5 separate regions of the Homo sapiens genome follow, and regions 1, 2, 3 and 4 are each reported to be linked to region 5. Evidence: microRNA targets listed by miRTarBase, many of them from high-throughput screens and not tested one by one. Region 5 holds a microRNA gene; each other region holds the end of a gene's coding sequence.
What was found. The annotated mature microRNA hsa-miR-200c-3p reads UAAUACUGCCGGGUAAUGAUGGA and lies in region 5 at 3,986-4,008, shown strand. An mRNA with a match to its seed (bases 2 to 7 or 8) in the 3' UTR can be bound and repressed. Matches are read on the target gene's strand: a 7mer-m8 pairs with bases 2 to 8, a 7mer-A1 pairs with bases 2 to 7 and ends in A, and an 8mer does both.

Region 1: the mRNA of ERRFI1 is a reported target of hsa-miR-200c-3p. Seed matches in the 3' UTR shown: 7mer-m8 at 4,997-5,003, 7mer-m8 at 4,422-4,428 and 7mer-m8 at 4,031-4,037.
Region 2: miRTarBase lists RND3 as a target of hsa-miR-200c-3p. Seed matches in the 3' UTR shown: 8mer at 3,363-3,370 and 7mer-m8 at 3,219-3,225.
Region 3: miRTarBase lists ATP6V1E1 as a target of hsa-miR-200c-3p. Seed matches in the 3' UTR shown: 7mer-m8 at 732-738.
Region 4: miRTarBase lists SECISBP2L as a target of hsa-miR-200c-3p. Seed matches in the 3' UTR shown: 7mer-m8 at 2,940-2,946, 7mer-m8 at 5,702-5,708 and 7mer-A1 at 5,924-5,930.

What each region holds. Positions count from the first base shown.
Region 1 is chr1:8,007,779-8,013,978 of GRCh38, forward strand. ERRFI1 (ERBB receptor feedback inhibitor 1) reads right to left here. Exons shown (of 4, transcript NM_018948.4): 4 at 3,949-6,200. The coding sequence ends at 5,432. Among named protein-coding and RNA genes, the nearest start is that of ERRFI1, 15 kb to the right of the region's middle. RefSeq lists a silencer at 1,851-2,145.
Region 2 is chr2:150,465,034-150,471,370 of GRCh38, forward strand. RND3 (Rho family GTPase 3) reads right to left here. Exons shown (of 6, transcript NM_005168.5): 6 at 3,162-5,205. The coding sequence ends at 4,954. Among named protein-coding and RNA genes, the nearest start is that of RND3, 19 kb to the right of the region's middle.
Region 3 is chr22:17,587,229-17,593,301 of GRCh38, reverse strand. ATP6V1E1 (ATPase H+ transporting V1 subunit E1) reads left to right here. Exons shown (of 9, transcript NM_001696.4): 9 at 566-1,166. The coding sequence ends at 628. It overlaps SLC25A18 (solute carrier family 25 member 18), which reads right to left. Exons shown (of 11, transcript NM_031481.3): 8 at 6,001-6,073; 9 at 5,223-5,377; 10 at 3,637-3,712; 11 at 2,307-3,207. The coding sequence ends at 3,066. It overlaps LOC101929372 (a long non-coding RNA gene), which reads left to right and starts at 4,110. Exons shown (of 4, transcript NR_171783.1): 1 at 4,110-5,435.
Region 4 is chr15:48,988,967-48,995,096 of GRCh38, reverse strand. It overlaps SECISBP2L (SECIS binding protein 2 like), which reads left to right. Exons shown (of 18, transcript NM_001193489.2): 18 at 2,171-6,130. The coding sequence ends at 2,853. Among named protein-coding and RNA genes, the nearest start is that of SHC4, 28 kb to the right of the region's middle.
Region 5 is chr12:6,959,757-6,966,093 of GRCh38, forward strand. MIR200C (microRNA 200c) reads left to right here and starts at 3,943; the gene lies at 3,943-4,010. PHB2 (prohibitin 2) reads right to left here. Exons shown (of 10, transcript NM_001144831.2): 9 at 6,155-6,160; 10 at 5,571-5,956. The coding sequence ends at 5,929. It overlaps MIR200CHG (MIR200C and MIR141 host gene), which reads left to right and starts at 3,489. Exons shown (of 2, transcript NR_135032.1): 1 at 3,489-3,592; 2 at 4,445-4,691. It overlaps MIR141 (microRNA 141), which reads left to right and starts at 4,341; the gene lies at 4,341-4,435. It also overlaps LOC105369634 and PTPN6. RefSeq lists enhancers at 1,802-2,601, 1,824-2,342, 2,151-2,360, 2,602-3,403, 5,186-5,235 and 2 more.

The DNA of each region.
Region 1 (6,200 bases), not on the chromosome of region 5:
CAGGCGTGAGCCACCATGCCCAGCCTGACAACATATTTTTAGAGTTTTATTAGCTTTTTACAAAATGCCAGAAGGCCAAAATTAATTTCTAAATTAATTTGAAAAAGTAGCACCTAAGTTCATTTTGATAGTAACTACTTCCAGATAAAATCCTACATGAGTATTGTGCCAATGTCAGTTTCCTGATTTTGATAAATTCTATGTCATCACTGGGGGAATCTGGGTAATGGGCATAGGGGATCTATTTTGCAACTTCTTTTGAGTGTATAATTACATCAAGATGAAAAGTTAAAAAAAAACTATATAAGAAATACAAAACTGTGCTAGGAGCTTTACTTATTTTTAAGAGAAAAGCTCCAGTATATCCTAAAACTATTAATTATGTGATGAAATTAAGAACCAAAATAGAGACTAGCTTAAAATACATGTTGATTCTTGAACCAGTAGATATATGAATATGGCTTTTCTCTAGTCAACTGTGAATTGCTCTGGAAGATGAAACTCTATGGCCTTTTATTTTATTTTTTAGGGTCCCTAATAGTGAAGAAGCATCCTCTTTTTTTTTGAGACGGAGTTTCACTGTTGTTGTCCAGGCTGGAGTGCAGTGGCTTAATCTCAGCTCACTGCAAATCTCCGCCTCCCGGGTTTTAGTGATTCTCCTGCCTCAGCCTCCCAAGTGGCTGGGATTACAGGCATGAGCCACCACGCCCAGCTAATTTTTTTGTATTTAGTAGAGATGGGGTTTCACCATGTTGGTCAGGCTGGTCTTGAACTCCTGACCTTAGGTGATCCACCCGCCCTGGCCTACCAAAGTGCTGGGATTACAGGCGTGAGCCACCGCACCCAGCCAAGAAACATCCTCTTAAAGAGAGTTCTTACTTTTCACAGCATAGTTAAGACATCTCTTGAGACCTAGAGATGGATAAGCAACAAACAGTATTAAACTTCCATTAGTGTGTTTTTGGAATTTATTAAAAACAAGAGGATACACATCACATACTTGACTGTTGCAGCATAAGAACTGACAAAATTGGCTGGGCGCAGTGGCCCACGCCTATAATCCCAGCACTCTGGGAGGCTGAGGTGGGTGGATCACCTAAGGTTAGGAGTTCGAGACCAGCCTGGCCAACATGGTGAAACCCCGTCTGTACTAAAAATACAAAAATTAGCCGGGCGTGGTGGCAGGTGCCTGTAATCCCAGTTGATCGGAAGGCTGAGGCAGGAGAATCGCTAGAACCCTGGAGGCAGAGGTTGCAGTGAGCCCAGATGGTGCCACTGCACTCCAGCCTGGGTGACGAAGACTTTGCCTCAAAACAAAAAAACAAAAAACTGACATTTACTATTAACCCAAATTTTGAATTCACTTGTAAGAGAGCCCCCTTATCCTCGGCTTCTGTTTGCTGCCACGAAATGGTATCTACTAACCAGTCCCTTAGGTGTGCATAGCACTACAGTGCGCTCTGGCATGGCCTCACATATACTGACAAGGAACTTAAAGCTCAGGGAAGTGAAGTGAATCCTTCCTATAGAAAGTGGGAGGTCAGCCAGGCGTGGTGGCTCACACCTGTAATCCCAGCACCTTGGGAGGCCGAGGCAGGCGGATCACCTGAGATTGGGAGTTCAAGACCAGCCTGACCAACATGGAGAAACCCTATCTCTACTAAAAAAATGCAAAATTAGCCAGGCGTGGTGGCGCCTGCCTATAATCCCAGCTACTTGAGAGGCTGAGGCAGGGAGAATCGCTTGAACCCGGGAGACGGAGGTTGCGGTGAGCCAAGATTGGTGCTACTGCACTCTAGCCTGGAGCCTGGGGTGACAAGAGCAAGAAGACTCTGTGTCTAAAAAAAAAAAGGGAGAAGTCAAGACAGGAACCTGGGTTTTAGGCCAGTACTTTGTTGTGTGACATAACCATCTTTGAGAACTCAACAGTGCATAAAGTGGCAGCTAACACGCAGCTGATTTCCTATTGGCATCTTACTTAGCAACAGAGAAGAGTGTCAGAAGTCCCGGGCTTGACCTATGCCACGAGAACTCTTTAGAATTAACTTGCTTTGTGTGCTGGTTGAGGAATAAGTTGACAGGCAGAAGGTGCTAGGGGATGTGTTCCGGTGGTAGTGTGGCATTGGCATGGCGGCTAGGCACATTTGCTTAGCCAGGAAAAATCAGGGAAAAGGTATATGCTTGCAAACACAAGTAAAAATACAAAGGTAAGATGGAAAGCAAACAGAACTAATGAAACATATTCTTGACCATATGACCAAGAAAAGGTAGTGGAGGGGAGGGGAGAGGCAAAAAGTCTCAGAAGCAGACAAAGTTCTGCAAGTGCTGCATTCAGACATCCAGTCAGCAGGGACTTACTGCACCCCTGGGTCAGGCAGTGCGTCATGACAGTGCACAGGAAGCTGAGTCCCTGCGCTTGGGGAGCTGTCCCTCTTTGGCCAGGGTGCCGCGCACACGGGCCTGCGTGATCTGGAACTTAACTGTTTCTACTACTCCCAGGTATCTTTTACTGTTTTTCTCCATCTCCACTGGCCAAGGCAGTCTTGTCTCAGTTCAGGACTACAGTAGCCTCTGTCCATTAAGTCTTCCCGTTTCCTTTTGCTTCTCTCCGATCTGTCCTCCACACAACAGCCACTGTCCTCTTAAATCACATCACCTTCCTCTCCTGCTTAGGATCTTTCAGTGGCACCCACTACACTTTTCCAGGCCCCTCCTCCTCCTGACAGCCACTTTCTGGAAGCTGCTCAGCTGTTTCCTACTTCAGGGTCTCACACATTGTCTGCTTCCTCCACTGGTAACATGCCTACCTGTTCACTCCCCTCCCTCAGCTTCCATTCTAACCCTTCAGAGCTTAACACCTCACAGGTCCCATTATCAGTCCTCATTGCTCCCATTGTTCATTACCTTTTTATTTAGCACTTAATATAAGATGTAATCATAATTAACATTATCTGCTTTAAATTCCATAAGGGAAGGGGATGTGTTTTCGCAGGATCCAGCATGGGGCTGGGATTTAACAAATGTCTGTTGACTGAACGTCCCAAGCCTGCATCTTCATCTGTAAAATGCCATAAATGACACCCAGCCTTTAGATGACAAAAACAGTTCTCATGTATGGGGCCCTCACTATGTACCAGATAATATAGTTTATATGCAGTTGTCACAAAATAATTCCCACCTCTCTGCCCATTTTACCAATGAGAAAACTGAGCTACAGGGATTTAAAATAATCTGCCTCACACAGAATTAGAAAGGGATGAAGTTGCAACTTCAACCCAGATAATTTGAGCCCTCACTCTTCACTCTGGAGAGTGGCAAGACAGTGCAGGTGCCCGATGAAGGTCGTGGAGGGCTCCCACCCTCTCCCAGGGGACAAAGGAGCCTGCAGAGGACAGTGAAGAGAACCAGGCACAGGGCTAGGTGACATGGGACTAAGCCCCCTCACAAAGAGCACTCCAGCCCCTGCCTCCATCCAAAGGCTGCCAGGAGCCCATTTGTCCACTGTGGACTTGCCATCTCCATGACAGGCCAAGGCAGGTGCAGATTCCTTGGGTGGCCTTAAGCAAGAAGCAAAGCCTGCCAAAGGGCCCAGAGTAACCGGGACCTCGTCCTAAAAATCAGAATGAGTCAAACCAAGTCTACACATCAGAACTGGTTTCTTCTGTCACGTTCTCCTTGATGTGGACTCCCACCCCCAACGTTGTTTCTGATAGTAACCCCAGAATCCAGTTCTCTTTCAGTTGTTAAAGGTAAAAACAAACAGCTCATTTCCACTGTATACTTTCATAATATGTGAAAAAGATTGCACAAATTATGTTTCATTCTAAAGAATAAGAGTTTCAAGAATACATTAAACTTCAAAGAATCTTCGCTTGTGCTTAAAAATAATGCTGTCAAATTGCTTCATACACTTTATAAGACTTTAGGCAAGAAACATTACTAATGGTATCATAAATAAGTATTATAACTTTATTAAAATGAAAAGACAATATTCAAAATAATGCAACAAAATGAATAAAATCCTTTGTCCAATACTGTACACATAATGCAGAAATCAGTGCATTTTTCTTAAGCATGTTTTAACCTTCATTTAGTTCATACTAAAATATAATAAGCTTTAAATAGCTCAAATAATATTCAGCAGTTTAAACTGTAAACAGCTTGTTTAACTGTTAAGAGAACATTGCAGTAATGTACCTCTGTTAGTGAGCACCTTCTCTTCTGTGCTTATCTCTTCAAGATAAATACATGGAAGGATGTGAAAATCGGAACACCAACTATGTGTCTCACTGCATCTAAGTGAAGCAGCCACAGCTGTGAGAGTTTTCAAAGCAGAAAGATGCTGATGTGACCTCTGGAATTCAGACATACTGAGCTATGGGTCAGAAGTGTTTTACTTAAAAAGCAAACAATCCCCAGGAAATACTGAATAGGAACCAGCAACACAAGGCCAGCTTGTGTTGTATGTTTATTAATACAGTCTAAAAAAAAAAAGCAAAACCACAACACACATCCCCAAACAATAACTCTCAATCACATAGCTAATTGCTTCATTATTTTGTAAAACTGACATCCTAACACTGGCACCTAGAATACTTTTCCATCTGAGTCTAACGTACCCCACTGCCTCTAATACGGCCCGCACTACGATGAGCTACTTCAGTGGGTGGGACCAAGCAGGAACTGTAAGGGAAAATTAGTCACTAGTTCTATTATCGTTTTATTTTTCAAGATGTGTGACAGGTACAGGTGACAATATGGTTGCCAAGTAACCTGCTCTCCCTCCCTCAACAAGACGCAACATGAAACCTGGAAGTATGAGGCCTTGGTATGATTTTTAACCTAAGCAGGTACACCCATGGTAAAGAATGGATACCCTGCCCTCCATGGAAAAGATTGCCTGCAAAAATAAATGGAACAAAATAGAAAAGGCCTAAAAGCCAGAAATCTTCAAACTTACTAAACAAAAATATTTTTTAATGATTCTGATCTAAACAATACTGTATCTTCTTCCATTTGCTCAATTTTCAGTCTATCAGGACTCATTTCTCCAGCTTGAGTTTATTATTCTGAATATATATTACTCTACGATAGTAACTAATTGGTTAACCTGCAGCTATGGTCTATGGTTATACCACAAGTTTATATATAGGTATGTAATGTATGCATATATAAAAAGCTTCCCCATCCTCCCCTCCCCACCATCACATCTTTAAATTATAGACTTGTAAGACTTTTTTCCAACACTAACAAAGTCAGGGTTTCTCAGCATAACAGCATCTCACAACTGCTCTAAACCTTCCACATGAAGACAGAGAGTTCAACTATTTTATTTTGCAATCTAAGGGATTTTTCTCTGCACTTCAATCAAACTGGAAAATTGAGAACCATTTGCTCCTATGTAACCTCTGCTGAACCATGACCCCAAGGTCTAAGGAGAAACCACATAGGATAAATGTTTACGCTTCACGTGGCCACCCAGATCCATTTTTGTTTTTGAGTCTGGCTTTTCTGTGGCTGAAGATATACCGCAGTCAGCAGGTAATGGCTGGATTTGGGCGCCTCCATTTGTTTCTTCTGCTTCCCTAAAAAATTTTTCATATTTGTCCAGGTATGGTGGTCGTTCAGGTAGTAGGTAATAATGTGTTGAACTAACCTTCTTCCCATTTTCAATAATGGGCAGAATGCAAGGAACCTTACTGGCAGATCCTTCGCTGTTCTGTCTTTGCAGTGCTTTGCTGCTGACATACTTGGGATCAGGGGCAAAGCTCTGTGTCGGGGGCATGACCCCATTGAGGTAAGACGGAAGGCTTTTGGGACTCGGTGTGCGCGAGTTACTCGGTGACAAAGGTTCTCTTGGCGGTACTTTGGGAGGCCTGTCTTCATCACTATAGGTGCTCGAAGTAACTTCTGCTGACCATCTTCTATAATCTGGCTTTACTGGTCTAGGAGGTATGGGAACTCTGGGGGGAACCTCAGGTTTGTCTTCATCGGAGTTAGGAGAAGCTCTGTGTATACAACAGTTGGATATCCTTATGGCTGGCTTGTTAAAGGAGCCAGCTGGTCCCGAATGAGACCTTCTTAATCTTCGGTGGGTCTGAGGTGGAGGAGGATTTGGATCTGGGACACCTCCATTTTGGTCAGACACATAGCTGAGATCTGCTGCAGAAACAGCTGGGGTATCAAAATATGCATAGTTG
Region 2 (6,337 bases), not on the chromosome of region 5:
TTAGAGGGAATATTTACTATGAATGTTCTCATAAAAGGCCAACAGGATGAGGTGATTGTCCAGGAGCTTTGAGGGCACTAAGTGAAAAGAGAGTGATTTCTGATCTACTCAGGTGCGGCAGGGAGGCCATGTGTGAAGGGAGTGCCCAGGGTCTGTGGTAGCAGCTCCATGAGTAAAAACCATTGCCTCATCATCTAAAGAAGCCAAAAGCAAGGGGTGAAGGAAGAAAATAGTTTTGTTAGTGTACCTGTATTAGTTTCCTATTGTTCCTGTAACAAATTATCACAAATGTAGTGGATTAAAACAATATAAATTAATAATCTTACAGTTCTTGAGGTCAGAAATCTAAAGTAGGTCCACAGGGCTGCAACTCTTCTGGAGGCCCTGGGGGAGAATTCCTTTCCTTGACCGTTCCAGCTTCCAGAGGCCAACTGTATCCTTTGGCTCATGGCCCCCTTTTTCTGTCTTCAAAGACAGCAGCATAAGCCAGGCATGGTGGCTCATACCTGTAATCCCAGCACTTTGAGAGGTGGAGACCAGGAGTTTGAGACTAGCCTGGATAACATAGCAAGACTCCATCTCCACCAAAAAAAAAAAAAAAAAAAATTAAAAATTAGCCAGGTATGGTAACATAGACCTGTAGTCTCAGCTGTTCAGAAGGCTGAGGCAGGAGGGTCACTTGAGCTCAGGAGTTCAAGGCTGCAGTGAGCTATGATCATATTACTGCACTCCAGCCTGAGTGACAGAGAGTGAGACTCTGCCAAAAAAAAAAAAATCCAGCAGCATAGCATCTTCAAATCTCTCTCCATCCTTCTGCCTGACCCTCTGTCATCTCTGTCATCACATTGCCACTGTCTGACTCTGATTCCTCCTACATAATTGTTATAAAGGTCTGTGACTACATGGGCCCTCTCTGGATAATCCAGAATAATCTTTCCATCACAAGATCTTTAATTTGATCACAACTGCAAAGTCCTTTTTGCTATACAAGGAAACATTCACAGTTTCTGGGATTAGGAGGTGGACATGCTTGGGGAGTCATTATGCAGCCCACCACAATACTTTATGTTGCTTGAGTCTATTTATTTATATGCTGTAGTTTTGTAGAAAGAGTCATATTCATGGAGATTATGTTCAGGAAAGGAGAAAACAGAAAGGGAATTTATGTAGCCAAGTATATGAACAAGTGGTAAGAGGCAAGAACTATGTTCCCAGAGCTGAGAGGAACCTAAAGTTGTAAATAAGTTACCAACTGCCTCTGGGAGACATAAAGAACGAAGGGAGCGTCCTCTCACTAGCAATTGATCATCTTCCGTATGTGGTGTAACATATGCGGCTATTGCATTAATGTGCCTGGCTATGTATTGGAATATTTAGTGCCTACTCACTTTCTTTGATTCAGTTTATGTCAATGGAAATGACAACCAGTTCTGGTGTACTATAGTTTGGTAGTGACTGTCTCCCACTACTACATTATAAATTCCCCATGTGAGAGACTGTATTTAATTCATGATTATGAGCCAAACTCAGAAAAGTGACAGGCATGTAGTAGGCACTCAATAAATATTTGGTGAATAGAAAAATGATAAAAATAAAAACTTTGAGGTTAAAACAGAATGCTGGTGTCAAAATAACCCAGTAGAAAAAGGATAAGCAGCTTTAAGAGTTTCAGGAGAGTTAGAAGATGAGGTCATTTAAAAAAATTCTTTCTAATAAAAATAACTCCCTGAGTTATTTCTAAGTTTGTACTCAAGACAGACTCCCTGCAAGACTAGAATCTTCTAAGAAACTATTCCTGTAAAAGATTAAAATGAGAGAGACACAGTGTAAGTCTTACTCAGAGTTTGAAAACCACCTTTTAGTATTTAAAAAGGCATTAACCATGATCATTAATCAATAGAAAGGAATGTTCACAGAATGCTTAGAAGAAATGTTTGCTAAGGCAAGAAGTCAGAGAAAACGAAGGCATCCATGCCCAAGGCTGAAGACAAACGTTTTTCTTTTGCTTCAACAAATTAAAGCTGCTAGGAAAGAACAATTGACCAGAGAGGAACATTACTGTACAGCATATAAAATACTGCCAAGGTCAGCAAAACCTCAGCTTTTTATTTATTTTTTTATTTTTCTGTGCCAGTGATTGTTGAGAAATGAGTTTCTTGCAAGCCTGACTTAGACATTATGCTCCGAAGTTACTCAACACGAAGGATTTGGAAAGTACTTTTATTTCCTTTACTATTTGATGACGAGAATGAGTTACAGACATTTTCAGTAAATCTCTGTGCTTAAAATTGTTTATAAGGCCATTTCATAATGTCAGTGTGCTTTAATTTGTTCACTCATGCTGGATTCTCTGCTTCCCCCTTTGCTTTGGGCTTCTGAGAATTATTTCCAAGCAAATAACTATACCTCCAAGATTCCCAAAGCCACTCAGAAAAAAAGAAGCCACAAGGATGCATTTTTTTATATGAAGTGACTTAGCTGTGTAAAAAGAAGCACTGTTTTAAAATCCCACAGAGTATCTTTGGACACTTATGTAAAACTTATATGTAAGTATTTTAGCTGAAGACTGAGAATCAACTGGATTTATGGGGAGATAGTCCTCTCTTTTAAGCTGTTCCATGCTTACTGTACATCTCCCAGATCAGTGGGGTAACTTGTATTATGTTGTGCTGTGTTATTTATCCTTCCACGAATTGCTGCAAAAGCTGTGTTCTGGGTCATCCCCACAACTGCTGTGAACAAGGGCATGCCTTGCGAGGTGGCATGGGTTAAGGACCAAGGCTTAGGACCCCACAGGGCAGAGAGGCAAACTAGGCTTATATTAGTATTAAACCTGTGACTTGAGACTGCATCATATTGCTTCATTCTTAAAGACTTGAAGGATTTCCATCTTTTCTACAAGTTAATCTTAGGCAGTATCATAGCTCTTTTTTGTATATGATCAAATCACTTAATCTAATTATGCCCCATTTTTTTCTTGTGATTTGAAAGCATCATGAAAACTTTTATATATGCAGGTTTATCTGTTACTACTATGAAGAATCAAAAAATTCCAAAGCCTTCTAGTTCAGAAAACGTTAGGCCAGATTCTGTAATCACCTATGTTAAAGAACAAAGCTAAACAGCTAAATCAGGAAGTAGATAATAAAAGACAGATCACATTTAGACAAAGACATGGTTACTTTTTTATTTGAAGAAAAAAAAAGTATGTTTTAATAAATACTGCGGAAACATTGACCAAACAAACATACACAGTGACTTCAACAGTTTAAAAAATGCAACAAAAGTTCTGCTTTATAACAGTTATAACTTATTTTCTTTTTACAATATTTAAATACAGAAAGCACTCGCCAGCTATTTTGTAATACTGCCCAAAGCATAATGCTGCATCAATCAAAGCATATTATGTTGGTAAAATGTCTGTATTTTATGGGAAATGACTGGAATCGAATTTTCTTGCAGAGACAAGACAAAGTGCTTGTAAGACATAGAACTGAGTGTTGTAATTACCTTAATCTCTCCTGCCACGATTTAAGGGGAGCACAGCTTCAACACTTCAAAAACGAAGCACTATCATGGGAAAGAAAGCTCGTTTTCAACAAGCGCCAACAATAAACAGGTCAGATCTGGTTTCTTCTCTGAAAGAATCTCTAAAAGGAACTGGTCAAAAATATCTGTAAACTATTTTAAATGCTTATTATTTTACGTAACAACAGAGACCAAGTGCTGAACACAGACCTTGGCTGCATCTGTTCAGTGAGGTTTTAGCAATGACACTCTAGAAATGCCCTAGTGTTATGTCAGGACTGAAAGTTTATCATATAATCTTCCACTAGGGATTCTCTAAAGCTTGGGTAAGTGGCATCTTCTCTCATCAATGTTCATTTAATGAAAAGTGAAATAAACCAACAGATTATCAGATGCTGTCAGTTTTGGAGCTTCAACCCAAAATAATAGTCCTTTTGCTTTGTATTTTTGGTAACTTAATTCCAGACAGCTTTACTCACAAACTGTGCTTTCTGCTACTATTCTTTCCTTCACTCATTACCTTTTCTGGTGAAAACAGTAACTACCTTTTTTCTCTCCTTGGATCATTCTATGACATCAAACCAAGACACCTTTTATTTGACTTTGCATTTTTATCAACGATGGCAAAAAATCACACAACTTCTAAACAGCGCACAAAAATATTACATTGAGCAATTTACCACTTTTTAATGACAATCACAATGAAGAACAGAACCATCAGACTGAATAAAAATCGACATTTTTTTTCCTATTTGATCTATGCGATCTTTGTAGTGCTGGTCTACAAATCTTGCAAGATTGCAAAGGCTTTCCTTAGAACCATCCTACTCAGCTATCTTCAGGAAGGCAAGATTTCAAAGCCTCATAAAGTTTGCCTCTGGATATATCCCATGGGTCCTGATACAATTTCCTTTTTAATGATGAGCTAGAAAGAAATTAGATCACATCCTCTAGAAAACTAAATGCTAAGGTCACAGTGCCAGTTCCCCCTTGAGGACGGTATATTAACGTATACTTTTTGTAAAGGAGATTAAAACATTTAAAAATTAAATCAAAGTGGAGATCCATGAATAGATTATAACAAAAAAAAAAAACCCAAAAATGCAAGCACCATTCAGAGTGTGATTTTTCTTCTTGGAGGTACTCGCATCCCCCCTCATCTTCCTCTAGCTCATTTGTATCTCTCATTTTTTGGCATATTTTTCAAGTCACACTTAAAAACTCTTCCATGTATTCACTTCTCATCACTTGGTCTACATGCCGAACCTAAGGTCAGGATTCCAAAAAGATGAGTATCCTCTCAAACGCCTCCTAAGCCTCTGGTATACATGACTTTGGCTGTGCACTTCATTTAGACTTCACCTTTTTGTTTGCTGTTGTTTTTTACACTAGATTCCTTTGTCTTCATTAAAGATAATGAAAGATTCACATCACAGTGCAGCTCTTCGCTTTGTCCTTTCGTAAGTCCGTAGCAACTGCCGAGAGTTCTGGTCTGCTAGGCATGTGTGAAATCCGCTTTGTGGCTCTCTGTGATTTGTTCCGCTTAACGTTTTTATTTGTCTTATTTACACATGCCAAGGTGGCAACGTGAAAAATGTCTCTGACGCTATTTTCCGACTGTAAAGCTGAGCATTCGATATAAGTAGCTGCTCCAATCTGTTTGGCCATATTTGCCCCCTGAGAAGCAAAAGAAGGGATTTTAACCAGCAATAAGACTTTGGGGGAAAGTTAGCTAGCATCTTCTAATACCACAAAATAATAACACATTGCAAAACGTTTGCTGATATGTTAACTGAATTTTCCAAGTGTCATTGCAAAAAAAAAAAGTTGTTAAAATGTAAACTGCCTTATTTATTACTTCATAACTATTTGCAGTCCAGAGCCCATCCCTAAGATGCCCAACTCTCATGGCTCATTAGAGGTGTTAGAGCTCTGAATAAATGCTAAAGGCTGATCTTAACAAAGGAAGACCCTGGTTATCAAACACTTAACATGAGGTGATTCAAAGAAGTGTAGAGTGGAGCTAACGAAGTGATTCATCTTCACTATCAACTGCAAGCAAGAGTTAACTGGTTATTCAGGTTTTCCAGGGTCACAGCAAGCATGGAATGGCGCAGAGAAGCTTACTAGTGAAGTAAGTTAGCTGAAGGTCATGAACATAAACTCTGCATTTTCCACACAGCTCTGGCCGTGGCGATGTGGCCTTGAGAACCTGTTCCAGCGCCTCATGGTGCACTTCATTTCTCTTTTCTTGAGGGTAAATGGCATTCAAGACTAGTGACTAGGTTGTACCAAAAACAGGGGCAATGAATGAAATTTAAAATCGATTTTGAAATGTATGTGATTGTGTCTTACTTAGGGCCGAAATGCGTTGAGGAAAGGAATAATACTATTGTAACATCTGTTACTTTATGAAACACAACATATGTAATTTCTAAGTGTGAACCATACCACCAACGTACACAACAATAAGCATGTGCACATTAACCAAAACTACTTATTTAAAATACCAAATTTTTTGCTAATGAGAAATGGAAGACTAAGAAGACTGCGGTATTTAAAATGATGATTCTTAATAAAATTTTGGTATTTCAACATGAACTCTCTTTAGAATCTGGTTGTAGGTTTTATGAGAATGAGCTTTTGAAACTGATTCTCATTTCTAAATACTTGGGGGAAATGCTTACAGAAATGAAGACTCTCTGAAAGATGGTGTTATGGAGTGTTCCACTTTACTGGCAACAGCCTTATTATTGTACTGCCGACTGTAAAATCAGATTACCCCTCTTAAAGAGTATTACTGATTTTG
Region 3 (6,073 bases), not on the chromosome of region 5:
CTTTAGGTTTTTTTTTGTTTTGTTTTTTTTTAATGTGTCCCTTTTGTAAGCAGTCTGAACCCCAGATTTGGGATGAGTTAAGTTTCTCACCAAGGAATGTGTTACTTGCTTCAGGGAAGGAGAGGGTGGCTTTGATGTGCGTGGCTTTGTGAGTCCTTCCCAGCCACATAGAGGTTCATGGCTTTCCACCTGTGGTTAAGATGTGCAGCACTCTGGCCAGGCTTGGTGGCTCACGCCTGTAATCCCAGCACTGTGGGAGGCCGAGGCGGGTGGATCACGAGGTCAGGAGATCGAGACCATCCCGGCTAACATGGTGAAACCCCGTCTCTACTAAAAATACAAAAAAATTAGCCAGGCATGGTGGCAAGCACCTGTAGTCCCATCTACTTGGGAGGCTGAGGCAGGAGAATGGCGTGAGCTTGCAATGAGCGGAGATGCGCCACTGCACTCCAGCCTGGGCGACAGAGCGAGACTCCGTCTCAAAAAAAAAAAAAAAAAAAAGATGTGCAGCGCTCTACAACTTCTTCAGCTGACATTGCGTATTTATTACACTTTCTCTCCACAGATGATGCCAGAAGTCCGGGGAGCCTTGTTTGGTGCAAATGCCAACAGGAAGTTTTTGGACTAAGCCTTCAGGAGGTGGAGCTCGTCGTCAGCTCTCCTGCTGTGATGTGGAAGCTTCTGATATTTGAAGAAACACGAATGTCTCTGTAGCTTCCTCTTCACTGCCCCAGTATTGCTCTGTATTTATCAGCGATGCCCCTCTGTCACTCATGCCTTGCCTAATTGTTCACAATGGTGGAAAGCTTCATGTAATATGATCAGGACCCACCTCCAGTTCTTCTGAAAGTGTGACAGTGTCCAGCCGGTTCTGCAGCACTAGGGGAGGGGGCAGATGGTGGTTGCATGGGCTTCCTGGGTCTCCACTCTCCGTCTGGCCTAAAGGTGATGTATTTGGTGTTTGGCCCTGCAGTCCCCACTCTTGAGGCTTAAGGCGCATGTGGCACACCACTCCTTCCAGCAGTAGTCGCTTTACTGTTACCTGTTTAGGCCTAGAAGTTTTCCCTCATCTGTAAATGTGATTTAAAATCTAAGCCATGAATATGCTTTATTTATTAAAAGAGTTATGCGGATTTAATGTGATTTCTAGTGTAAGGCACTACAAATTTAGGTTTTGACAGAGTCAAATTCTTACTGAGGCACCTAGAAAAGAAGTATTTTCCCAATCCCCGTGGCACTTGATGGTGACAGCTGTCAGCACCTGGACCCGTTAACCCTCTGGGGGTCCCCTGGGCTGTTGCCCGTTGTTCCCAGCCCATCACCAGGAGCATTCTTTCCACCCTTGCAATCTTCCACACACCCCACATGGCTCTTCAGCGTGACGTGCACAACTTTATTGAGGAAATAGTTTTATTAGTGTTGCCCGAATGAGAAAAACCAAGTTGTTTGTTTTTTCTTTTTCTTTTTTTTTTGAGACGGAGTCTCGCTCTGTTGCCCAGGCTGGGGTGCAGTGGTGCCATCTCGGCTCACTGCAAGCTCCGCCTCCCGGGTTCGTGCCATTCTCCTGCCTCAGCTTCCGGAGTAGCCGGGACTACAGGCGCCCGCCACCACGCCTGGCTAATTTTTTGTATTTTTTGGTAGAGACGGGGTTTCACCGTGTTAGCCAGGATGGTCTCGATCTCCTGACCTCGGATCCGCCTGCCTCGGCCTCCCAAAGTGCTGGGATTACAGGCGTAAGCCACGGCGCCAGACCCAAAAAACCGAGTTATTTTGGAGCAGGTCACTGTGTGCTGGAACCAGATCCTTTCACAGAGGCCCTGTTCTTCCTTCCCTGTCCCATGTTTTATTTTTCCGTAGGTGACGACTAAGAGCTGCCCAGGGCCTTGCAGCTAGTACATGGTGGAGCTGGGACTTGAACTGAGGTCTGTCTCCAGGGCCCATACTCAAATGCAGTTCTCATAACAGAGAGTGAGGCCCCCAGGGCTGACCATGTTAGCACCATCCTCTTCCTTGTTAGCCCAGGTTTCACAGTAGATGGGACTATTGTAAACACCAGCTCCTGCAGCAGGTGCTGATTTTCTTAGGACTTGGCCCTGCTGCTGTGACATTATCTCTCCTGTAGCAGCCTTTGGGGGAGGAATCGAGGTGCGTGAGGAGGGCTCTCACAGCAAACTCAGCTCCTCAAGACGATTCACTTATGAAGGGATAGAATCAAGGCTTAAAACCCAGTGTCACTAACAAGCAGATATTTCCCTATGGCTGTGTTCCTCCACCCCCACAAGTAACAGTTTGAAGAGTGACGGGGGTCTGCTTCTATGCCCTTTTTAATGTTTGGTTTTGAAATGGACGTAGAAAAGTAGATGGTGATAGCATTCACTGCAGCCTATCTGCTGTACCCACTGATGAACAGATGAGATTTTAGCCATTCACCTTTATTTCAGAGTGTTCCTTGGTTACAGGGAGGGGTGTGCAAGACCCTGGGCTCTGGGGGAGGGGCTGAGCTGCCCAGTCAGAGCCGGCCTCAGCCCCCTCAGCCATCCAGGGATTCGAAAGGGTGCTTGGTCTCAAACTAGGTGCTGACTCTGAGGGCTTTCACGGTCCCTTGAACTTCTGATCCTCCTTTTCCTCAAAATCAGTGCTAGGACTCATAAGTTATGGAGTCCAAGATTAACAATGCTAAATCCTCAAGCTGACTGAAGAATGCCGAGTTTGACTGTGAAATAGAAATGTTAAAATACAGAAACAACCCTTCTATTGTGACTACCTGTTAAGGTCCTGCAATTAATACAACGAAAGTACCATTTTTGTTGAAAAGTAGGTGGTTAGGGGCTTCCAAAAGCCCCTGGTAGCTGTGCCCACAAAGGAAAACGAGTGTAGACACGAAGGGGAAGAAGGCTGTGCTCAACTTGTTAGAATATAGGGCTGTTTCTCCCGAGATTGAGGTAGCACTACAACGCAGAGGACCAGGCAGGCCAGAGTGGCCCCACCTGCCCTTGCCCCCTCTAGGCTAAGTGAAACAGCTAGAGAGAGGGCGGCAAGCGCAGGGACTTGACCTCCAGCTCTGTCTAGTCAAAACACTTTAAGATGCGCTCTCCAATCCCAATAAAATAGACCCCTTGAGCAATCCCAAAGAGAGGTGCTATGACCAGTGCCCGGCAGCCAGCGCCTTTCATGAAGGCAGATGGTCCCTCCTGAATCCAGAGTTTCCTGGGGAGAAAGAAGAGCCAGTGAGCTGATGGGCAGGGGCATTCTGCAAGCAGCCCTCAGTGGCAGCCTCTCCATTTGTGCACCTCTCATTTTAGAATAGTGCCTTCCACAACAAGAGCAAGAGGCCAACGGTGTGGGAGCTGTGCCTCGCCCGCTAGGTGCATGCAGGTTGGTTACTTATGCAGTTGGGTCAAGGCCTTGGAAACAGGCTTGATGTGGCTAGAATCTTTGGTGAGAGATGCTGTAGGGATGCCAGGAAGAAGAAAAAGGCTCCCAGTACATTCTGTTTTCTTTGAGAGGTGAGGGAAAGACAGACTTCAAAGAAACCCAGAGCCCAGCAATTCAAGTTGGTCTCTAAATCTGGTCTAGGCAGACACCCACGCAGAGGAACCTGTCCCAGCCACCATTTGAGGGGACACTGGCTCTCACCTGGCACAGTCGGTGATCCCACTGTACATGTCCTCGCCCAGGCCTTTCTTGAGGGTTTGGATTCGAGTTTTCAGAACTAAATCAAGTAAAAGTTAAAGTAAGTAGTGAACAGCTTACTTTCGGTGTCCTCCCCTCAACACTAAGGGGCTGGGCCCTCCTGTAGAGCCACCACATATAAAACTGACTCATAGGCCGGGCGCAGTGGCTCACGCCTGTAATCCCAGCACTTTGGGAGGCTGAGGTGGGCAGATCACAAGGTCAGGAGTTTGAGACCAGCCTGGCCAACATAGTGAAACCCCATCTCTACTAAAAATACAAAAATGAGCCGGGCGTGGCGCGTTCCTGTAGTCCCAGCTACTCATGAGGCTGGGGCAGGAGAATCGCTTGAACCAGGGAGGTGGAGCTTGCAGTGAGCCGAGATTGTACCACTGCACTCCAGCCTGGGCAACAGAGCAAGACTCCATCTCAAAAACAAAAAAAGAAAAAAAAAAACGGTCATGAGGCCAGTTCTGCCATTGTGTGATCTGTAAGTGGAGGTCTTCTTCTTTGGGCCTCAGCTATAAAATAAATGAGTCATGTTACTGTGGCTTTGTTTGGTTTTGTTGAGACAGGGTCTCGCTCTGTTGCCCAGGCTGGAGTGCAGTGGCACAATCAGCTCACTGCAGCCTCAACCATCTGGGCTCAAGTGATCTTGCCACCTCAGCCTCCCGAGTAGCTGGGACTACAGGCACGCACCACCACACCCAGCTAATGTTTTCATTTTTTTTTTTTAGAGACAGGGTCTCACTTTGTTGCCCAGGCTGGTCTCAAATTCCTGGGCTCCTGTCTCGGTCTCCCAAAGTTTCGGGATTACAGGCGTGAGCCGCCGCACCTGGCCAGGTTACTGTTGGTATAGGAAGTCTACCCGCAAGTTTAGGGAGCTGGAGGCAGCCCTAACACGGAGGGAAGCATTGTCTTCTCATGCCAGGTTTAGCTCCCACCATTAGCCGCAAATTTTATGTATTTATTTACTTTTTGAGATGAAGTCTTGTGCTGTCGCCCAGGCTGGAGTGCAGTGGTGTGGTCTTGGCTCACTGCAACCTCCACCTCCTGGGTTCAAATGATTCTCCTACCTCAGCCTCCCAAGTAGCTGGGACTACAGGCATCCGCCACCACACTCTGCTAATTTTTTTTGCATTTTTAGTAGAGACGGGGTTTCACCATGTTGGCCAGGATGGTCTGAAACTCCTGACCTCAGGTGATCCAAAAGTGCTGGGCTCCCAAAGTGCTGGGATTGCAAGCGTGAGCCACCACACCCAGCCAGCCCCAAATTTTAACACATCAGCAATAATTTATAGCTGGGGCTCACAACTCTTCTGAGGGGATGAAAAGCTAAAGCAATCAGCATCTTGAAGGCGAGGGATGTGTCAGGGATGAGAAACAGAAGGAAGGTCTCTTGGGACCCACTTTCTCCATGAGGGCCTCTAGTGAGCCTCCGCCAGCAGCCAGATTGCAACCCAGTATGGCTTCCAGGGTCAGGCTGTTTTATCTATAAGTGCAAAATTACTGTTTATCCCATAGAAAGGACACGTCTCCCAACTCCTTACCATCTAGAGGCGTCACTGCGACCGCAGCTATGGAACCTGCCACACAGCCTGACACGAAGGAATGTGCAAAGGACGCCTTACCGGCGAGCTCGTTGAACCCCAGGTTGTTAAGGTTGGCAAACAGTGGGAAGTAGATGATGGAGAAAGGAATGTCTCTGCAGAAGAGGAAGGAGAAACACTGAGCTCCGAGCTGCCCTGGGGCTGCCACCCAAGGTGAGACAATGAGCTTTGCTGTGAGCTGTGGGGCTTACAGTGAGAGGAGCCACGGGGACTCATCCCTTCTTTTGTGCCCCGTGAGCGTGGGTGAGGGACAGCAGGGGACAAAAGAGCTGTTGCCATCTGTTCCGCCGTCCCAGCTCCTTCCTCTGCCCTGCAGCACCTGCAGCCTCTTGACTGCCAGAGGCAAGTCCGAGGCGGGAAATGCGTTCTGTACAGGGGCAGGCAGGCTAAGGGAAGATGAGGGGCCTGGCCACTCATTACTATGAACTCTGCGGTCCTCTGTAGACAGGGCTTTCTTAGGTGCCTTTGGGCCACAAAACACCCAGCCTTCCTGTGGGCCTGGTCATCACTATGCAAGCGGCCTAAAACTTTAGTCTTCTAGGTACCCATTCTGTGCCACCCTGGCCAGTTCCAGACAAAACAGGAAGCATGGAAATCGTTTGCTCACCTGGGTTTGGATATTCTGGGAAGGACACAGAGGCAGATAGGGACAACCAGCTCTCTGGCCCTCGTGCCCTCCCCCGTGCACTTGTCCTAGGGAACCGGAAGAAAGGCTCACCTGAGGAGAGTGGCACCCAGGCCCCTGTAGAGCCCAGCCAGGCCCTGAGTGCGGAGCAGCTCCCAGGCAATGA
Region 4 (6,130 bases), not on the chromosome of region 5:
AGGTGATGTTTTCAGAAAGCACCAGATTCAAAGTGTTCAAAGATTGAAGCCTTGGTTTTTCTATACTCTGCCTAAAGGTTTTAGGTGTAATCAGTTAATCTCGGGGTCTTGGATTTCTCCTTAGAAAAAAAAACTGTTGAAATGTTAATGTGCATCTAAAATTTTTAAACATTTTGTGCCTTTAAAATTTTTTTTCATAATTAAATATATGTGGGAAAATTTTCACTTACTAGACTGTTTTTTTTTTTTTTTTTCCCCAGCACTTACTATATACCAGTCATAGGGACACAGAGATGAGCTGGAGTGGAAGTGAGGAGGGATGAGGAAGGTGAAACAGCAAACACAAAACAAGGCTTTTGACTGTATATGTAAAAAGTACTGTGGGAGTTCAGGTTAGCGATTGCCTGTCAGGAGTTAGGAAAAACTTCATGAAGGAACTAACATTTAAGAGTGGTTATCAAGATGAATAGGAGTCTGAAGGGGAAAGGAGGAAAACACATCTGCAGAAAGAGTACAGCTGATGTTCCAACTTTAGGGAACAGTGAGAATTTAGATGACACTGAGCATGGAGTGTGTGGCCTATGGCGCAGGGTCAGAAGGCAGTAGGACCAGAATGATAGATAAGGGCCAGATCATGAAGGGCTTTGCTGTGCCACGCCAGGGATTTTGGATTCTATCCTAGGGTGATAAAAAGCCAGTTAGACAATGATATAATCAGTTCACAAAACCGGTTACGAAGATGTTACAAATGAACAGCAAGAAAAAGAAGGCCTGAGCTAAGGGAGTAGTAAACAGATTTAGTAGTTTTTGAGCTACAGGTGTCATGGTATAGTGATGAATTCAGTGGACTAAAGGGATATAATACTAATAAGAGAGAAAAGTAGGATCAAGTGTTACTATAAGGTGTCTTCTGCTTTGAGATTGTGTAAATGATAATGTCATTAGCTGAGAATGAGAATATAGGAGGAGGTGATTTTTTTTTTTTCATAAGGTAGAAATGACAGTGGAAAGGACTCATTCTACACTAAAGTAGCTTCAGGAAAGAAATTTTTTCCCAAACAATGTATCCTGACTTGAAGTGCCCAAAACATGTTCTATATCAATATATAGGCCATAGATGGTGACCATATTGAACATACTAATGTGAATAGGTTTGCTACAACTTGATAAGAATATTATACCTATAAACTGCAAATAGTAGCTGTAATGTCAATATGATAGAATTTTTATTTTTTAAAAAAATTTGAAAAAATACAGGGGTGAGAGATCTTTACTGATTCTTGGTACTTTTTTTGCCTTCAACTGATTTCCTATCATGAGAAATAATTTAGTTTGTCATCACTGTAGTATATAATACTTTTTTTGTCCTCCAAAATCACTTTGTAAGCCAAGCTATATATATATATATATTATAAAACAACCTTTCACAGATGTTAGAAATGCATGGATGGATTCTTTGCTTATAATTGGAAACACATGTCCCATTACAGGCCAAAAGATAATTTAAATAACTTGCTGAGTGAGCATGGTACAAACACATGAATCAGAACTATTATTGCTGGACATCTTGGCTCTTCTATCTCTTGGGTTGTGGGTCCTTGAGCCCATTACACCTCTAGGCTACCAAAAAGTTAGGCAGTTTATTGATTTTCATGAATATATGGATTTTATTTGTGAATGCCAGTGAGCTCCTATTGGTATAAGATCTCTTGCATTCTGAAGCGTTAATATACTTATTTTTACCTCCCTGTTTCTTTATCTTGAATGTACATTTTTGGGAATTATTTTCCCTTTATAACATTTAAATTAGGTTGGGCACAGTGGCTCACACCTGTAATCCCAGCATTTTGGGAGCCCAAGATAGGAGGATAGATTGAGCCCAGGAGGTCAAGGCTGCAGTGAGCCAAGATCATGTTGCTGCATTCCAGCCTAAAAGAGCAAGACCCCATCTGAAACACACACACACACACACACACACACACACACACACACACACTCTCTCTCTGTCTCAAACTAGTACTAAATAAACTAAATTTGTAGTTTTTCCAGTCAGTTTCTAAGCCAACAAATTTATATATTTTGTTGTTCTTTCTTTTTTGGGGGTTTTTAAAGAGTTGCATGATTTTGAAACAGTGTTCTGGTTTTTAAAAAATCTGCTTGATACTTGTAGAAACAAATTGGAGAAACATGGTGGAAACTTCAGATGGACTGGAAGCATCAGAAAATGAGAAAGAGGTATCCTGTAAGCACAGCACTTCTGAAAAACCCAGTAAACTTCCATTTGACACACCCCCAATTGGTAAGCAGCCATCATTAGTGGCTACAGGCAGTACTACCTCAGCTACAAGTGCTGGGAAATCCACAGCAAGTGATAAAGAGGAAGTGAAGCCAGATGACCTGGAATGGGCCTCACAGCAGAGTACAGAGACTGGCTCTTTGGATGGCAGTTGCCGAGATCTTTTGAATTCCTCCATCACCAGCACCACCAGCACTCTTGTACCTGGCATGCTTGAAGAAGAAGAAGATGAAGATGAGGAGGAGGAGGAAGATTATACTCATGAACCCATATCTGTAGAAGTGCAGCTCAATAGTAGAATTGAGTCTTGGGTCTCAGAGACCCAGAGAACTATGGAAACCCTTCAGCTTGGAAAAACCCTTAATGGTTCTGAGGAAGACAATGTAGAGCAAAGTGGAGAAGAGGAAGCAGAGGCGCCTGAGGTGCTGGAGCCAGGGATGGACAGTGAGGCATGGACTGCTGACCAGCAGGCCAGTCCTGGGCAGCAGAAGTCCAGCAACTGCAGCTCGCTCAACAAAGAGCACTCTGATTCTAATTACACAACGCAAACTACGTAACTCAGGAAATGTCGGCTCTCTATCTCCAGCTGTGGAAGGGTTGCAGCCATTACCTTTTATGCTTCATCTCAACATTTTGCACTGTCCAGTATTTAATATACGTATTTAATTCCCAACAAATATTTTTGTAGCTTTTACTTGTTATGATCTGTAGCTTAGCTTTTAATTAGTATCTAAGTGTCTTTCTAAGAACTGTGTGGAAAATTCAGATCTGTTTCAGCTTATTTTGTAATCAAAAACAGTGATAAAAAGAAGACCAGATCTTAAAGAAAATAAATTTCAAATGCTTACTTAAAAGACATTTTGAAAGTTAAAGAACAAGGTTCTAAGGATAGAAGCAGTTATCAGTGTTTGCTTCAGGACTCCACCTCCTCTACTCTAATTTGACCAAAAAATTGTTTGGGCTTCTTTAAAAAAGAACTGGGGGTGGAGTCAGAAAATTAAATGAAAGGCTGAGGGTAACTAAGTCCACCAGTGTTGTATGTTAAAAAATCAATGCAACTTTTATGTGGTCCACAAATGTTTAGTCAGAAGTCACTGATTATTGTAATTAATTAGTGTTGGGATGGGCTAAAACAGAGCCTTCAAAACTTCGGCTAGCAGTGGAGCCACCATCTTAGATTATAGCTAGCTAGCCTCATTTGTGGAAAGTGATAGATGCTGTCTATAATAGTGAACAGTCACCCATGATAGGACCTCCAGGTTCTGTCTCATATTTGCTTCTTACTTACCTCAGGAATGCTCTTGTACATAGACTTATTTACAAAAAGCTAGGCACATGTTGACAGGTGAATAACTGTAACCGATTGTATGACTGCTGCACTTACATGTAAACTCTTCAGAAACAGAGTCTTATACTGGTGTGTTCTCTTGCATGCTTCTGGTTCAGGACTCTTGATTTGAGATATGGATTTGATTGAGTATCCAAACTTGTCCTGAGTGCAAAACTGTTTCACCTTTTAAAAAATACCTATTTTGCACCTAGCCTTGAGCACCTTCCACATAGCAATGACCATAGTTACTGTCAGGAGGTCAAGGAAAGGAACTTTGCACAACTTGTGACATGTATCCTGATAATCAAGGCTTAGAGGAGGAAGTTTTAGAAGATAAGAGAAAGTTGTTCTAATTGTGCTGAAACTATTAGATGATTTAGAGTATACAGATATGTAGGTATTAATTCTCTATTCACTATTATTTATCTCTGCCCTTCTCTAGGAGTTTGTATACCTGCTTAGGAGACAATAAATGAGCTAAATGTTTTATTTGCTAGTCAGTCACCACCTGGACTTCAGTGACTTTACAAGTTTATGTAATGGTGGAAGAATGACAAACTATGTAATTTTTTTGTCTTCCATCCAACTCCCCACCACCCCCAACTGTCCCCCCCACCCCCCTCACACACATGCACACATCCGTACGTGTGTGTGTTTTCCACTTACAAGCTTCCATAAGCAGGCACAAAACTGAGAAGGAAGGGGTATTATCCCTGCCCTGATTATCTGGGGCAGGGCTTTGCCTCACAGAGGCAGGAGAGAAGAATTGGGCAGATTCTTTACTGAACTCATTGGGACTACTGTGCTAGTTTTGATGTTTTATAATGCTGGCATTTAATTACTGGAGAGATTGGATTCTTGGTTGATGATTTAGTATTTGTGAATTGTGAAAGTTCAGGAGCTGTGTAGAAAATGTTAGTCAATCAACTTTATTATTGTGCTAAAAGGGGACATTCTTATACTGTCCTGTCTAAACTGTTCTCCAGTATAGACTTCCTAGGCACTAAATATCCAATATTTAAAGGAACACAGCAGGTAAGGAATGAAGCCTCTGAAATAGTACTCATGGATTTATACATGGCAGATCTTACTGTCTCTACACATTTGGAAGTGTTCGTTGGTTTAAAGAAATGATAGAGGTTTTGAACTACTGACAGTCTTAAAAGTGAATTTAAAAACTGTTCATACTTTTTATGGTGTAAATTTCCTTTGCTCGATGTCAGTGATTCAGATAACTCTTGACCTTGAGATGATGGCTTTTCACAGGTTTCTTATATTTTATATCTCTTCTGAACATGAATTGTCATTTTAGATTTTTGACATTTGTATCAAAAGAGAAGTTGAGGAAATCTTCAGAACACTGGTAACTTTTAGTTTTGCTATAGACTTCAGAAGTGTTTATTTATATGTTCGGTAAATGCTCTCGCATATGCAGTACCTCTTCTGCCAGCAAATCCAAGGGACCATAGCCTTTTTATGAGACAGGTCACCTCTAGAGGACAACCCAAGAATTATTAAAGGAAATGTTACCATTTTGAGAGCATGCTTAAATAAATATTAATAATGTCTTTATAACTTGTTTCCTTTAAATTTTGGAATATTGAATTACAGGCTTTGGAGGAGTTGTGAAAATTAGGAAAGTTTTTATATATTTTTTGAAGTGGGCATGGTTGGCTCTTTGAAGACCTATAAAGAGATCCAGTGGGAAGAGTAAGGGTTGGTTCATCATCACAAGAAATAAAAAACATAGTGATTTTTTCTCTTAATGTGTAGAGGTGGTTTTACTGGCAATAATTAATAATAGATTTCTATTTCAGTATGTAAGCATATTAACTAAAATATGAATTACACTTCCAAAGTTAGATTTCTGCTTCAGTAGGTTTGTTTGCTGTGAAGATTACTTCTCAAAAGACAGATGTTCATATTAGCTTAATTTTCGGTTTAAATATGTTTGTAAATGATGTAATATATTTCTTTTGACTAAATGTGGAAAAGTAATGTGTGTTATACATTGAGAAGTTTTTACTGGCTTTGACTGGAGGTTGTTTTTGCAGAGATGGTATTTTATATGATTCCAGTATTTGGAAAAGAATTAGTCAAAAGGAATTCACATAGTTTAAATACTGAGAAATTAATATCCAAATATGTACTTGTCTGATTTCTAAATAAGCTGGGGGAGGAGGGAGGGGTGGGAATTGAAATGTGCAAATGAGTAGTGAATGCTACACTCATTTTCAACTCTTTAACATGAAACTGTTCAATCTTAACACATTGTTACTTTAATATATGTATAAAGAAGTATTACTGTTTGTAAAGCTGCTGTTTGCTTAAAAAAAAAAAACACCCTTGTCATGTATTTTCTGTATGTTGGGCCAACAGGTTAGAACATCAACTCATTTAAAAATTTTTATCTTTTTTTGATTTAAAAAAATTCTGTGAAATAATTTATTTACAGACATCTTCCTCCTCCCTCATCCCTTCCAACCTTTACATACATCACAGAA
Region 5 (6,337 bases):
AGCTGGGCAAACCTCCATCATCACTTGCCCGGTGACCCTGGGCACATTCCCTCCCATCACTGGAGGCTCAGGCTGCTCCTGTGGTGCCTGGGGCTGGAGCTGAGCGCTGGGTACCCCCCTTCCCGGGGAGGGCTTGACTGGCCTCTGATGGCACCCCCGTCTTTCCCCAGCGCCGGCATCGGCCGCACAGGCACCATCATTGTCATCGACATGCTCATGGAGAACATCTCCACCAAGGGTGAGGGGCACCTGGGGGTTTGGGGGTGGGGGGTGAGCAGCCCCTCGGTGTCCGCCTATGCCTGGACCTGAGGTTTGACTGCCCCCCACCCAGGCCTGGACTGTGACATTGACATCCAGAAGACCATCCAGATGGTGCGGGCGCAGCGCTCGGGCATGGTGCAGACGGAGGCGCAGTACAAGTTCATCTACGTGGCCATCGCCCAGTTCATTGAAACCACTAAGAAGAAGCTGGAGGTCCTGCAGGTGCGTGCAGAGCAGGGCCTGGGGGGGGGGGGGGCTGCAGTGCAGGATGGGTGCCACCTGGCCCTGCTGGGACCACCACCTTCCCACTGTCCCTCTGCCCACAGTCGCAGAAGGGCCAGGAGTCGGAGTACGGGAACATCACCTATCCCCCAGCCATGAAGAATGCCCATGCCAAGGCCTCCCGCACCTCGTCCAAGTGAGTGGCCCTGACTGCCACTGCCCGGCATCCACCCCTTTGTCCTGCCCAGCCCGATCCTCACTTTCTGGAGAGGACAAGTGTTGCAGCTGGGGGGACCTGGCTTCAAGTTCAGGCTTGGTTCTCACCCCTTCTGTTCATAAGCATTTCCTGAGTGCCCACACGTGTGGGCCTCTGCTAGGTACCAGCAGCGCACTCGTGTATGAGATGTAGCCTCTGTCCTCTAGGAGCTTGGAGTCTAGTGCAGGGACCGTGGCTGCGTCACCTGTGAGACGGGGTGGCCAGAGGGGACTGCCAGTGCCGGGTCCCCCTGTGCTGTCTCCTGACCTGCACCAACTGCCTGTACTTGCCCCCCTGCACCCGGCTGCAGACACAAGGAGGATGTGTATGAGAACCTGCACACTAAGAACAAGAGGGAGGAGAAAGTGAAGAAGCAGCGGTCAGCAGACAAGGAGAAGAGCAAGGGTTCCCTCAAGAGGAAGTGAGCGGTGCTGTCCTCAGGTGGCCATGGTACAGCTCTTCTGCCTGGGTGTCCTCCCTGCCCTGCCCTGTGTCCTTGGCTCCACTGCCTTCCCTGGGTGGATGGGGTGGCCGCAGCCTCATTCTGTGCTTCCCAGCTGCCCCAGACCCTCTTGTTCCACCTCCAGGTTCCAGCTACCCTCTCACTCCCTCACTCCCTTCTCTTGGCAGCCTCAGCCCTGACCCTGTGGAAGCATTTCGCGATGGACAGACTCACAACCTGAACCTAGGAGTGCCCCATTCTTTTGTAATTTAAATGGCTGCATCCCCCCCACCTCTCCCTGACCCTGTATATAGCCCAGCCAGGCCCCAGGCAGGGCCAACCCTTCTCCTCTTGTAAATAAAGCCCTGGGATCACTGTGTGTCGCCTCTGAGCCCTTTGCTTGCCCAGTGAGTGGGCGGCCAGAGGGCAGGGCAGGATGGGTAACTGTGTGTGCCTCCGTGCGTGCCTCGCGTGAAAGCTCCGCCTTCCGTCAGACGGACGTGGGTCGGGACTCCGCCTCGCACGTGGGAGGGTGACCGTGGGTGAAGCTCCCCAGTCTCCTTCTTTAAAATGGAGGGCGATCATAACAGGGTGGTTGTGAAAAGCACCGAGATGACGGCTGACGATAAGACGGGCACAGTGACTCATCACACGCTTGCCATGTGCCCAGGCACTAAAAGACTACACACGTTAGTTCAGTCTAGGCACTTCTGTCATTCTCATTTTACCGTGGCGGAAACTGAGGGACAGAAAAACTAAGTAACTTGGTCACTTGCCCAAGGTCACAGGGCTATGGAACAGTGAGGCTGGGATTCGAACCCAGGCTGTCTGACCCCAGAGCCCACACTCCTTACCCTGGAGTTGCAGCTGGGGCCACCCTCAGGGGGGCCCTGATCACACTCCCCTGATGCTGAGTTCCAGATCTGAACTAAGAAGAGTAGTTAACAGCCGGAAGCGCAGACCTGAGGCCAGCCCGGCTGCGTCCCCTCTGGCGGGAACAGGGACAGGCTCCTCAGAGCACCCGGGCACGCCCAGCTCCTCCCCTCATCCAGGCCGCTGCTGCCCTTATCCTCTTGGGCAGAGTTTGAAGAGCTGGCTGACGTGAAGAGTGCTTTGTTTTTTGTCCCCTCTTCCTTCCCCCATGTCAGGAGTGGGGTTTCTTCTTTATTTGAAACACTGGTGTCCTGGGGAGTAAAGCCGGTGGGAGTCATCCCTCAGGAAGTGCTGGCGCCCACTCCTGGAAAGGCTGAGACAGCACAGGTCCCAAAGCCCAGAGGCTGGGCGTGCATTACTCAGCAAATCCTTACAGAGCCCCCGGCGTCACAGGCATTCACAGTCCCCCGACCTCCTGGAACTTAGGAGGCTGGTCAGGGAGACAGATTCACAAACCGATCACAAGCATCAAATAATTGCAGGCGGGTATTAAGAAGGAAGCAAACAAAGCCTGGGAGAGAGAACAGCGAGGGATTGAGCAACCCAATAGCTCCCTGGGGCTGTGGCCCTCCAGGGCACGGGTGGGGCAATCACCTGTCGGGCCCAGGTCCCCTCTCCCAGCAACGCCCTTTCTATACAAGCCGCAGCTGCACAAAGGCAAGTCCCACCTCCTCTAACCGCCCTTGGGCTACCTGCCCTTGGGGTGGGACTTGGACTCCACTGAGGGCTGTGCTGTGAGGTGGGTCCGGGAGCAGCTCGGTCCGGAGAGTGGAGCGCGATCGTTCCCTCTGCAGGCCTCAATCGAGGGGCAAGGCTGATGCTCCGGGCCAGCTGGGGTCTCTGGGTAGCGGTGGGTAACTTCACACTAGCGACACCTTGCTGGGACCCGCCTGCCCTTCACAGGCCTGGCGGGGCCTTCTCCCTCCCCTTTCCCTCAGGGGATCCCAGCACAGGCTGGGCACTGCGGGGCGGCACAGCCCAACTCCTGCCCAGCTGACCCCTCGCTGACCTCAGGGATCTCTCTGGCCTGCAGCTCCGCTGTGGGCAGGGTCTGAGGCCACAGAGGAATGGGCTAGTCCTGGGGGCAGCATCTGCTGTGGGGAGGGGACCCAAGGACAGCCCCCGCTTTTTGTACCTCTGGAGACAGGGGTGAGACTAGGCAGGTTGGAGAAAAGAGGCCCCTGGGAGAGGGTGGGAGGCCTAGAGGAGTGGCCAAGCCTTAGAGGAGGTGCCCGTGGCTGGCGCTGGGAGGGAAGGGGTTAAGGCAGTGGGGGGGCAGCCTATGGCAGGAGGACACACCTGTGCGCAGGGTGGCAGGCGGGGCCCAGGTAAGGAGCCTGCGCTGGCTGCCCGGCAGGCGGAGAAGGAAGGAGGAAGAGCGGAGGCCAGGGCGGGCTCTAGGCCGTGGAATCTGGGGCCTTAAAGCCCCTTCGTCTCCCCAGCACCCACTCTCTGGGGGCAGGTGGGCCCGGTGACAGGTAAAGGCCACCAGGGGAGAGGTCCTGGGCTGAGCTTGGGACTGCAGAGGGGGGATGAGGGTGGGTAAATCGGTGTGTGTCGCGGGTCGGGAAAGGCTGCCGGGGGTAGGGGAAGGTGGCTCAGAGGCGGCGGGCCGACGGTCGAGGGGCTTCGGAGGGCCTGCTTGGACTGCAACCTGGGCCTCGTGATCAGCGACCCAGGGTGTGGCTGGTGGCGGGCAGCAGGGCTCACCAGGAAGTGTCCCCAGGGACTCGGGTGGTGGGGGGATGGGAGCCAGGGATCTGCAGCTTTTCCGCAGGGATCCTGGGCCTGAAGCTGCCTGACCCAAGGTGGGCGGGCTGGGCGGGGGCCCTCGTCTTACCCAGCAGTGTTTGGGTGCGGTTGGGAGTCTCTAATACTGCCGGGTAATGATGGAGGCCCCTGTCCCTGTGTCAGCAACATCCATCGCCTCAGGTCCCCAGCCCTTAGCTGGCTGCAGCCCCCTCCCCACTTCCCACGCACCCCGGAAGCCCCTCGTCTTGAGCTGAGAGCGTTGCACAAGGGGTGGTTCTTGTTGGCTGGCTGCCACTAAGGGACACAATGGGCCCCAGCCCCTCCTCCCACCCAGTGCGATTTGTCACCTGGTGGATCCAGAACCCACAGTCGACCTTGAGCTTGGGGTTGGCTCGCCCCCTCTCAAGAGACCTCACCTGGCCTGTGGCCAGGGTCCCCTGTAGCAACTGGTGAGCGCGCACCGTAGTTCTCTGTCGGCCGGCCCTGGGTCCATCTTCCAGTACAGTGTTGGATGGTCTAATTGTGAAGCTCCTAACACTGTCTGGTAAAGATGGCTCCCGGGTGGGTTCTCTCGGCAGTAACCTTCAGGGAGCCCTGAAGACCATGGAGGACTACTGACCAACAACCTCTGACCTTCACCCCTCTGGATGGGGGACGAATCACTAGGCAAAGGGGAACAATGGGAAGGAGACAAAATGGCTGCCTTTACAGCTGCAGCAAGATGTGGAAACACTGGTTCCCTAGGCACCTCCATTGTCTTCCCGCCTTGGGAGCATGAAATAAATAAAGTGTGAAGGGGAACATGAGGAAGACTGATCCAAGTCACTTGACCTGTCTTTTGTCTAGTTGTTTATCTCATCTTAGCCTCCCAGCAACTCAGGATTGGGGCTGCGACGTCTGCTTTGTCTTTCATGATACTCAACCCCAAGCAGAGAAAAATATCTTAAAAATCGAAGCAGATTAACCCAGTCCCTCTGTTCAGATCCACCTGCTGCCCTATCTGCATTTGGCAGTTCCTGGACATACTTTGCACCTATGTTTTGTCTGAGTTCCACATCTTCCTTGTCTCCCCGCAGGGATGGGAAATGGGCAGTAGTGGGAGATTCAGGTATAAACGGTGGCTCTGTTTCTCTGGTGCCTGAGATTCGGGAAGGCCTGTCTTGGGAAGATAAGTGTCAGCTTATCTGTGGACTGAACAGACAGGCACCTGTTCTGTTGGCCCCGGAACTGCGGGCATGAAAAGCCCACCTCCCCAGGGGAGGCCTGTTAGCTAGCAGCTCCTCACGCCTGGTGACTGAGAAATGGAGTCTGGGGGGCCTACAGCAGGCCACGCGATCCACTGGGCTTCTGGGCACAGAAGTGCCTCAACAGGCACAGGCAGGCTCCCCACAGCCACAAGGAACCCTGCTGCCAAGGAAGCAGCTCCTGTTGGGGTCATCAGATTTTTAATCTGGCTCAGCAAAGCCATGGCTGTCCAGCCTTAAAAAAATGGGTGATGTGGGAGAAATGGAGGGTGTGTGAAGAGCACAGCTGGGCCTCGAGAACTCAGGGCCAGCCTTCCCAGCTTGGGTCCTGTTTCGGAGCCCAGGCCTTGCTTCCCCTTAGCCGCCCCAGCCAGATTCTTTTGCGCCCCCTGCTGGCACACACAAAGACAGACCCAGGAGCGCACATGTGAACGTGCGCATGCTTGCTGCCAGTTACCCAGTTCATGAACACGTGAAGCCTTGACTTCAGGTTAAGTAATAAAAATTTATTGAGAATTCCTGGGTTGGTGTTTATCTCCTCCCAGCCTTGAGGGAGGGAACAACACTGTAGGAAATCACTGAGAAATCACGCACTGTCCCCAACAGCCCCAGTTAACACAGGGAGGAGGAAAGTAATTCCCCAGAAAAGGGGCTAGTCTTCAGTCTTCCTTAATCCAAGAGGGGTTCAGGGAACCGGTGTGGGGGACCATCGCATGATACTGGGGCGGGGTAGGGCTGTGCTGGACCCCTGGCTGGCTCCTCAAAAACTGGAGAAGCAGATCCACTTCCTCTGGGGGTGGAGTTCTTGGTGACTAGGCTCATTTCTTACCCTTGATGAGGCTGTCACTGTAGGAAAAAAAAGATAGATAATGACATTATTAGGGGACATAAATGTGAGAGGCAGGACACTCTAGGCCATTCCCTCTACGACCCTCCTACCCTGATTGAGGGTTTGTCTTCGGGGAGGTGGGAAAGGGGGTAGGGTAGGAGGCGGGTACTGGAGAAGGTGGCCTGCAGGACCCCACAGAAGCAACAACAGCTTACCTTCCCCTGTGGTGCCAGATCGCCAGATGAACAAGAAACAGAGAAGAGAAATGCACATGTTAATTGACAGCTTCAGGCCCCACTCAGCTTTGAACCCTCCTTTGCTCCCAAGAGAAAAGATAAACAGGGTTGACAGCCAGGAATCTCAGGCTCATGAAAGGAGGAGGCATGTTCTCATGGCCA